3 separate regions of the Homo sapiens genome follow, and all the other regions are linked to region 3. Evidence: fine-mapped expression QTL. A gene starts in region 3. Each other region holds a variant in brackets. All regions are shown on one strand. Distances are between the middles of the regions. Region 1 overlaps PPEF1 (protein phosphatase with EF-hand domain 1). Region 2 overlaps ADGRG2 (adhesion G protein-coupled receptor G2). Region 3 holds the start of PHKA2 (phosphorylase kinase regulatory subunit alpha 2).

What was found. PIP is the estimated chance that this variant, and not a neighbour inherited with it, causes the effect.
Region 1: its variant is fine-mapped to the expression of PHKA2 in whole blood (TOPMed, PIP above 0.99).
Region 2: its variant is fine-mapped to the expression of PHKA2 in whole blood (TOPMed, PIP above 0.99).

What each region holds. Positions count from the first base shown.
Region 1 is chrX:18,802,785-18,805,544 of GRCh38, reverse strand. PPEF1 (protein phosphatase with EF-hand domain 1) reads right to left here. Exons shown (of 16, transcript NM_001377996.1): 11 at 1,468-1,653. Among named protein-coding and RNA genes, the nearest start is that of PHKA2-AS1, 86 kb to the left of the region's middle. The variant G/A (reference allele first, on the strand shown) is at 1,153.
Region 2 is chrX:19,019,846-19,022,605 of GRCh38, reverse strand. ADGRG2 (adhesion G protein-coupled receptor G2) reads left to right here. Exons shown (of 29, transcript NM_001079858.3): 14 at 1,408-1,502. All of the region lies in intron 2 of LOC101928415 (a long non-coding RNA gene), which reads right to left. Among named protein-coding and RNA genes, the nearest start is that of PHKA2, 37 kb to the right of the region's middle. The variant G/C (reference allele first, on the strand shown) is at 1,308.
Region 3 is chrX:18,983,165-18,985,906 of GRCh38, reverse strand. PHKA2 (phosphorylase kinase regulatory subunit alpha 2) reads left to right here and starts at 1,793. Exons shown (of 33, transcript NM_000292.3): 1 at 1,793-2,052. The coding sequence starts at 1,975. RefSeq lists enhancers at 959-1,008, 990-1,490, 1,491-1,991 and a silencer at 1,109-1,798.

The DNA of each region.
Region 1 (2,760 bases), 180 kb after region 3:
GGTGACAGGGAACCTGGTTTAGGCCCCGTTCTGTCCTGATGAGCATGTCACTTCAGACAAGCCACTGATGTTTTCTATCTATTTTCTTACTACAAAGAAACCCTAAACAATACTTGCCTTACTCATCTTGGAATGTTAGTATGAGCTGAAAATGAATTAATAAAGGTCAGAAAAACAAAGTGCTGACACAGAGGGAAATGCCACACAACTTGGTGTCCATTTTTATTTATTGCTGTTCACTATAGAAAAAGGTGCATTCCAGGCCAGGCGCGGTGGCTAATGCCTATAATCCCAGCACTTTGGGAGGCTGAGGCAGGTGGATCACCTGAGGTCAGGAGTTTGAGACCAGCCTGGCCATCATGAAACCTTGTCTCTACTAAAAGTTCAAAAATTAGCTGGACGTAGTGGCGGGCGCCTGTAATCCCAGCTTCTCGGGAGCATGAGGCAAGAGAATCACTTGAACTCGGGAGGCGGAGGTTGCAGTAAGCCGAGATTGCACCACTGCACTCCAGCCTGGACAACACAGCGAGACTCTGTCTCAAAAAAAAGAAAAAAGAAAAAAAAAAGAAACGGTGCATCCCAGAACAACTTGGGACAAGAAACCAGCTCCTCGGTCCTCACCTCTTTTAGCCTTTGATCAGACACCACTGAAGGAACACAACACACTCCGTTTTAGTGGCTGCAGCTAAACTGACTACAGTGAGCAACTTGCTGGAGGTCACCTACTCAGGGAGCTGAAGGGAAGTGTGTTTTGTGTTTTGGGCCCTGCACAGGGAACATGTAAAAAGTGCAAGAGCAAACTGGATTCACTGCTGCCTTTTATGCGCTCTGTGAGGAAAAGGACATTCTCAACCCCACTGTATGGGACAGTTGCCTTATAAGAACCAAGCCTTTCTGTGTGTCTACTTAGTGCCATGTATCAGAATTTCTGTTTCTGGGGCCAGGCGCGGTGGCTCACGACTGTAATCCCAGCACTTTGGGAAGCCGAGGCAGGCGGATCACCTGAGGTCAGGAGTTTGAGACCAGTCTGGCTAACATGGTGAAACCCTGTCTCTACTAAAAATACAAAAATTAGCTGGGTGTGGTGGCGCACACCTGTAATCCCAGCTACTTGGGTGGCTGAGGCACGAGAATCACTTGAACCCGGGAGGC[G/A]GAGGTTGCAGTGAGCTGAGATCACACCACTGCACTCCAACCTGGGTGGCAGAGTGAGACTCCATCTCAAAAAAAAAAAAAGAATTTCTGTTTCTGGGATTAGGGAAGATCAGGGAAATAAACCAAATATCTTTTAGGATAAGGGACAGTGAGGCCCCTTCAAACAACCTAGATGAAGCTCGCCTTCTCTGGTTTCTGTTTGGTACTAGAGAAGACATCTTCTCATGGGCTTCTAGGCCAGACATGCTCTGTGAAGAAAAGACTGTGCTTAGGGGAAGGATGTTTATGGGAATGTCACCAACAATTTTAGCTTACCTTCCCATCATGACAGATTTCATACCCTTCGGGCTTACATTCATGAGACCTGATGAGCATCTTCAACTGGTATTTATTAAGAATCTTGGAAGTAACATCTGGTCCAAAATAGCAGCCCCCTCCTCGGCACGTATTTGGAAAACAGCCATTTTTGCCTCTGGGATCACTCCACAGAATATCAATAATCTTGGAACAACAAACCAGATTTCGCTGTAACTTACAAGTGAGAGTATATCTTTCTAGATTCCAACTTATTTGTCAGAAATATTAACCCAAGGTATCCCAAAGACCACTTCTCATTCTTCCTTGAAAATTGTTTCAGGCCTGGCGTGGTGGCTCATGCCTGTGATCCCAGCACTTTGGGTGGCTGAGGTGGGAGGAGTGCTTGAGGCCAGGAGTTCAAGCCCAGCCTGGGCAACATGGTGAGACCTCAACTCTGCAAAAAATACAAAAATTAGCCAGGCATGGTGGTGCATGCCTATAGTCTCAGCTACTAGGGAGGCTGAGATGGGAGGATCACTTGAGCCTGAGAGGTTGAGGCTGCAGTGAGCCATGATCACTCCACTGCACTCCAGCCTGGGTGACAGACAGAGACCCTGTCTCAAAATTGTTGGGAGCAGGCCCCCCTAAAATCTGGCCATAAACTGGCCCCAAAACTAGCCATAAACAAAATCTCTGCAGCACTGTGACATGTTCATGATGGCCATAACGCCCACGCTGGAAGGTTGTGGGTTTACGGGAATGAAGGCAAGGAACACCTGGCCTGCCCAGGGCGGAAAACCGCTGAAAGGCATTCTTAAGCCACAAACAACAGCATGAGCGATCTGTGCCTTAGGGACATGCTCCTGCTGCAGTTAACAAGCCCAACCTATTCCTTTAATTTGGCCCATCCCTTCGTTTCCCATAAGGGATACTTTTAGTTAATTTAATATCTATAGAAACAATGCTAATGACTGGCTTGCTGTTAATAAATACGTGGGTAAATCTGTGTTTGGGGCTCTCAGCTCTGAAGGTTGTGAGACCCCTGATTTCCCACTTCACACCTCTATATTTCTGTGTGTGTCTTTAATTCCTCTAGCGCTGCTGGGTTAGGGTCTCCCCTACTGAGCTGGTCTCCGCAAAAAAGAAAAAGAAAAAAGAATATTGTTTCATATTCATCTCCTCCATGAATAACCAATACAGCAATAACAATAACCAAGAATCAGGCCTTGCCATTTTTTTTTTGTTTTTTTGGCTTTAAAAATTCCATCACAATTGTTTGACAATTGTTGAATCTACAAGGTTCTTTTCTCT
Region 2 (2,760 bases), 37 kb before region 3:
TTTTGAATTGTGTCCATTGGCTATCCTGGCTGTGTAAACCGATGGCTTACAGGGCAATACACTCAGTATCTGAACCCCGAGCCTTCTGTGACAGTCAAAGTCCTAGAAAATGAGAGTTTCTACTCATTAAACTATTCATTGGTACAAATAAGGGCAATGAAATTGTATTCCCTGTCCACTGTACGTATTTAGTTCATTTCACTGACCTCTTTTCGTTATTGCAACACTAATTTTCTTTCACCTAAACCAAGGCTAAAGTAGAAAGGACAGAGAGAATGTCTTCAATTCTTAGCTATCTAATAATCTAGATAGAATTCCCAGAAAGATTTTTTTTTTTTTTTGAGATGGAGTCTCACTCTGTTGCCCTGGCTGGAGTGCAATGGCACGATCTCGGCTCACTGCAACTTCCACCTCCCAGGTTCAAGTGATTCTCCCTGCCCCAGCCTCCTGAGTAGCTGGGATTACAGGCACCCACCACCACACCCAGCTACTTTTTGTATTTTTAGTAGAGACAGGTTTTCAGCATGTTGGCCAGGCTGGTCTCAAAATCCTGGACTCAAGTGATCCACCTGCCTCGGCCTTCCAAAGTGCTGGGATTACAGGTGTGAGCCACCGCACCCGGCCCCAGAAAGATTTTGGATTTGAAAGGTCTTGATGTGGCTGGGTGCAGTGGCTCACACTTGTAATCCCAGCACTTTGGGAGGCCGAGGTGGGCAGATCACCTGAGGTCAGGTGTTTGAGACTAGACTGGCCAACATGGCAAAACCCCATCTCTAATGAAAATACAAAAATTAGTGGGGTGTGGTGATACACGGCTGTAATCCCAGCTACTCAGGAGGCTGAGGGAGGAGAATCGCTTGAACCTGGGAGGCGGGGAGGTTGCAGTGAGCTGAGATCATGCCACTGCACTCCAACCTGGGCAAGAGAGCGAGACTCCATCTAAAACAAAAAAAGAAAAAAAGATCTTGATGTTCATCTAGACTGGTATGTGAAAGGGCACCCATGATGGAAACTCAAATGTTTATGGACACCAGGCAAGTGGCCAGCTAGTGTTTTGGGGGTGAGATTAAAGGTGTCAAGGTGCTTGCTTGTCTCTGCAACCAAGTTTCACCCCTGCCTGTTCATCGTGTAGACAGGCAAAATGAGCCAGCACCTATGTGTGGTCAGAGAGTCTCTGGTTTGCAACCTCTGTGAATGTGAACCTCCATAAATGTCTCTTAATATAAAGTCTTTTTGGGTAAAATTCAGACCGTGGTAAATGGGTATTTACAAGCTTATTGGGGTGACATCACAAGTTAACAGTATCA[G/C]TGTCCCCTTTCCTCACTCTAAGTTTGCAAAAGCAATTACAAATATGTAAGTAGGTTTCCCATTTAGTAACATTCTGGTTATGTATATTTCTCCTTACAGCACATTAAATTGTACATTCACAATAAAACTGAATAATACAATGAATGCATGTGCTGTAATAGCTGCTTTGGAAAGAGTAAAGATTCGACCAATGGGTAAGTTGTCTATTATTGCTGCATTAATCTTCATGTGGATTTTAATGTGTTATTTTTCTAATTGAAAATGTAATTAATAAATTTACATATGTTACAGCTTTCTGTTTTGACTCCTTTGTCCTTGGGCAATTTCTCTCTCTTTTTTTTTTGAGGCAGAGTCTCAGTCTGTCACCAGGTTCAGTGACACAATCATGGCTCACTGCAGCCTCCACTTCCCGGATTCAGGTGATTCTCCCACCTTAGCCTCCCGAGTAGCTGGGACTACAGGCATGCACCACCACACCCAGCTAATTTTAACATTTTTAATAGAGATGAAGTCTCCTTATGTTTCCCAGGTTGTTCTTGAACTCCTCGGCTCAAGTGATCCTCCTGCCTCGGCCTCCCAAAGTGCTGGGGATCATGAGCCACCACACCTGTCCATTGGGCAATTTTTAAAGAGCCCTAGAAGGTTATTTTTCCTGCTTGCTAATAAAGTTTTTTATTTTATTTTACTTTAAGTTCTGAGATACATGTGCAGAACGTGCAGGTTTGTTACATAGGTATACATGTGCCGTGGTGGTTTGCTGCACCTATCAACCCATCATCTAGGTTTTAAGCCCTACATGCATTAGGTGTTTGTCCTAATGCTCTCCCTCCCCGCTAATAAAGTTTTAATATGTCTTATTTGATAATATGATAAACCCTGTTGAGAAGGAGAATTCTTTTTGGAATGTTCAATGGATTGCTACTGGGATATGTCCACTTTTTAAATTGACAAGCAAAAAGTGTGCATATTTGTGGTGTACAATGTGATGTTTTGATATACATCACAGAATGGCTATATCAACTATTTAACATTTGCATTACCTCACATACCTATCATTTTTTGTGGTAAGAACATTTAAGGTCTACTCTCTAAGCACTTTTCAAGCATACAATACATTCTAATTAATTGTAGTCATCATGTTGTACAATAGATCTCTTTTATTCCTCCTGCGTAACTGAAATTTTGTGTCCTTTGTCCAACATCTCCCCAATCCCTCTGCCTCTGACCCCCAGTAAACAGCATTTCACTCTCTGTTTCTATGAGTTTGACTTTTTAGATTCCACATCTGAGTGAGATCATGCGGTATTTGTCTTTCTGTGCCTGGCTTATTTCACTTAACATCATGTCCTCCAAGATGTGTTTCCTTGTGAATTCCTCTTAGGAGTTGCTGAAGAGTGATTAGTGCTGCATGCATATAACCCCCAAAAAATCAATAAATATTTTTGAGCACTA
Region 3 (2,742 bases):
GTTAAGGACCAAACATAAGGGAACGCAGCTAAGCAGGACTGATTTCATTTACTCATGCGAGCAACATTAATTGAGCTCCAACTATATGCTCAACACTGTACCAGGCATAGTAGGAGATACCAAAAGACTGTTTCAATGAATAACGTACATTCCAATTAGGAAAATATGCCTCATCCACACATGAAAACATAAATAACAACAGGAGGCAATACATTGTGGCCAAGTGACAACGAAATTAGCTATGATTTATTAAGTATTTTTCTACTAGCCAGGCTTGTGCTAAATGCTTTATATTCATCCTCTTGATCTTAAGTCATCCTGTGAGGTAGGTGCTATGATTATCTCCATTTTACAGATGAGAACACTTAAGTTCAAACATGTAAAACGGGATGCCAAAGGTCATACGACTTGTAAATGACAGAACTGACATTTGAACTCAAAATGAACTGACTCTAAGTCCTAAGCTCTTACTAAACCAATGGCTACAGAAATTCAGAAAATGGGGAAGGCTAATAGAGGAGCTGAGCTGGCCGTTAAGGGAAAGATAGGCTTCAGTTAGTCAAGGAGGAGGAAGAAGGGCCGAAGGGGTCAAGCATAGAGTAAATGCATGGAGACTGGAAAAGAGCTTGCGGAAATTGATTGCATTAGTCTAGCTGTCCAGTAAATTCCTATGTGGGCCAGATTTTGGTGGACAATGAATACCAGGCCGAAGATTGTGAACTGTAGGTTATCAGCAGCCACGAAACATTATAATGAATGCCAAGTTTCAAGCTGTAGACCCGTGGGAGATGAACTGCGAACCTGCCCGAGGAAGCGGCGCCCAAGTGGCTAGGGGCGGGGTCACAGGCGCCAGAGGTGTCGCTGGGGCACCTCTCCGGGCCTTCCCCCTTTTTCTTCCGGGCTGGGTCCCGCTACTCCAGTTCCGCTAGGCGGCGGAGACGGGGCCAGAGGTGGGACTACAATCTTGGCCCTCAGAGGGGTGCCCAGGCGGCCGCGGTAGGCGGCCCTCTTTCTCCGGCCTCGAGTGGGACTGGCACCCGTCTCGGGGGGCTCCACACTACCACGCAGGAAAGCCAACTCGTCCGCCGCCCGAAGCCGGGTTCCCCTAGACTCCCACGGGCCGCCTCCTTTTTCGTCCCCCCCGAGGCCGCGACTCTGAGGGTTCCGCTCTGCGGCGGAGGTGGGGCCAGGGGCGGGGATGTGGGCGGGGCCGTGAGGTCGTTCCAGGGCGCGGGGCGGGGCCGCCCCCTTACCTGTGCCCCTCAGGGTTCCAAACGTTCCACTCCGCGGCAGGGGCGGGGGCGAGTCCGGAGGGCGGGTCCAAGGCGCCCAGGTGGCCGCGGCAGAAGGGCCTGTTTCTCTGGCCTTGGCTGTGGTTGGCAGCCGGCCGGGGAGAGAAGGGACTCAGGGAGGCAACCTGGTTCCCGCCCGTTGCTGATTTCGCAGCGGCTCTCCCGGGCCGCCCCCTTTTCCTTCCTCCTCAGGCCGCGACTTGGAGGGTTCCGCTCCGCGGCGGGGGCAGAGCCAGGGGCGGGGCTGAGCGCGGCCTGGGCGATCTCCCCGGCGGCTGGGGTGGGCTGGCGTCTTCTTCGCGCCCGGGGGACCTCCTCGCGACCGCCGGGACGTAAAAGGGGCTTGGCAGGGGCGTCCTCGCCCCACTCCCGGAACCTGGTTTCCCGCTGCTCCCGCGAGCGTCGGGAGCCCAGCAGGCCTGGCCGAGGCGGGACCTTCGTCGCTCCAGCCCCCGTCCCCGCCCCCGCGCCTCCCCGCCGCGCGGAGCTCTGGTTGGCTTGCTTTCCAACCGGACTTTGGGGCTAGCGTTTAGAAAAGTCTCGACCTCCTCCGGCCCGGTCCCATCCCAAGAACCGACTAAGGCTGTGAGTGTCCGGGAACCAGACCCGCTTGGAGGCCACAGCCCCGACGTCCCGCGCCCACGCGGCAGATCGGGCGCTGCGGCCTGGGAGCCTCGGGGAGATGCGGAGCAGGAGCAATTCCGGGGTCCGCTTGGACGGGTACGCGCGGCTGGTGCAGCAAACCATCCTGTGTTACCAGGTAAGGAGGGACCGCCCCCAGGGAACGCGTGGAACTACCCTCTCATGTAACTCATTCTCCTTCCCAGGTCTGGCCCTCTTGTGACCTGAGACCTTGCAATTAAGAGTTTGCTATTTGAATCTAGTCCTTGCTAGCCAGTGATTACCACCCCATTGCCACCCCGTGCTCCTTAAGATTCAGGGGACCTAACTGTTGCTACGGCTACTTTTCACAGAATTCTTTGGCCATTGTTCAGGATGAGAATGAGCCGCCTCCGTGCCCGGGTCCAAACTGCCTCTTTTTGCATTGACTCTGCTTTTTTTGGACGAGAAGAGGTGTGGGGGGTTTGGACAGACTACACTGAATGAGAACAGTAGACAGGAGTGAAGAAGCTCCTGAAGTTTACGCAGGACTCTGCAGTGTGGGGCGACAGCTACCGTCCCTCCCATGAGCTGTCTTGGTAGAGACCCACCTGGGAAGCCCTTAGGGGCTACTTTGGTTGCTATTTTACAGATAAGAAAATTGTGAGGCTAGAAAGGTCACTGCATGTAGCAGGTCAGACCCAAAGGCTCCCAAGCTCACAGGGTCCTATGACACTGCCCATGTGGTCCGAGGTATGAATTTGCCTGCTATGCTTTGTATTCCTGGGCTAAAATTATGTGTGGGTCCATCAGTGTAAGACCACTGAACTATTTTTATTCCTAGTGAAGA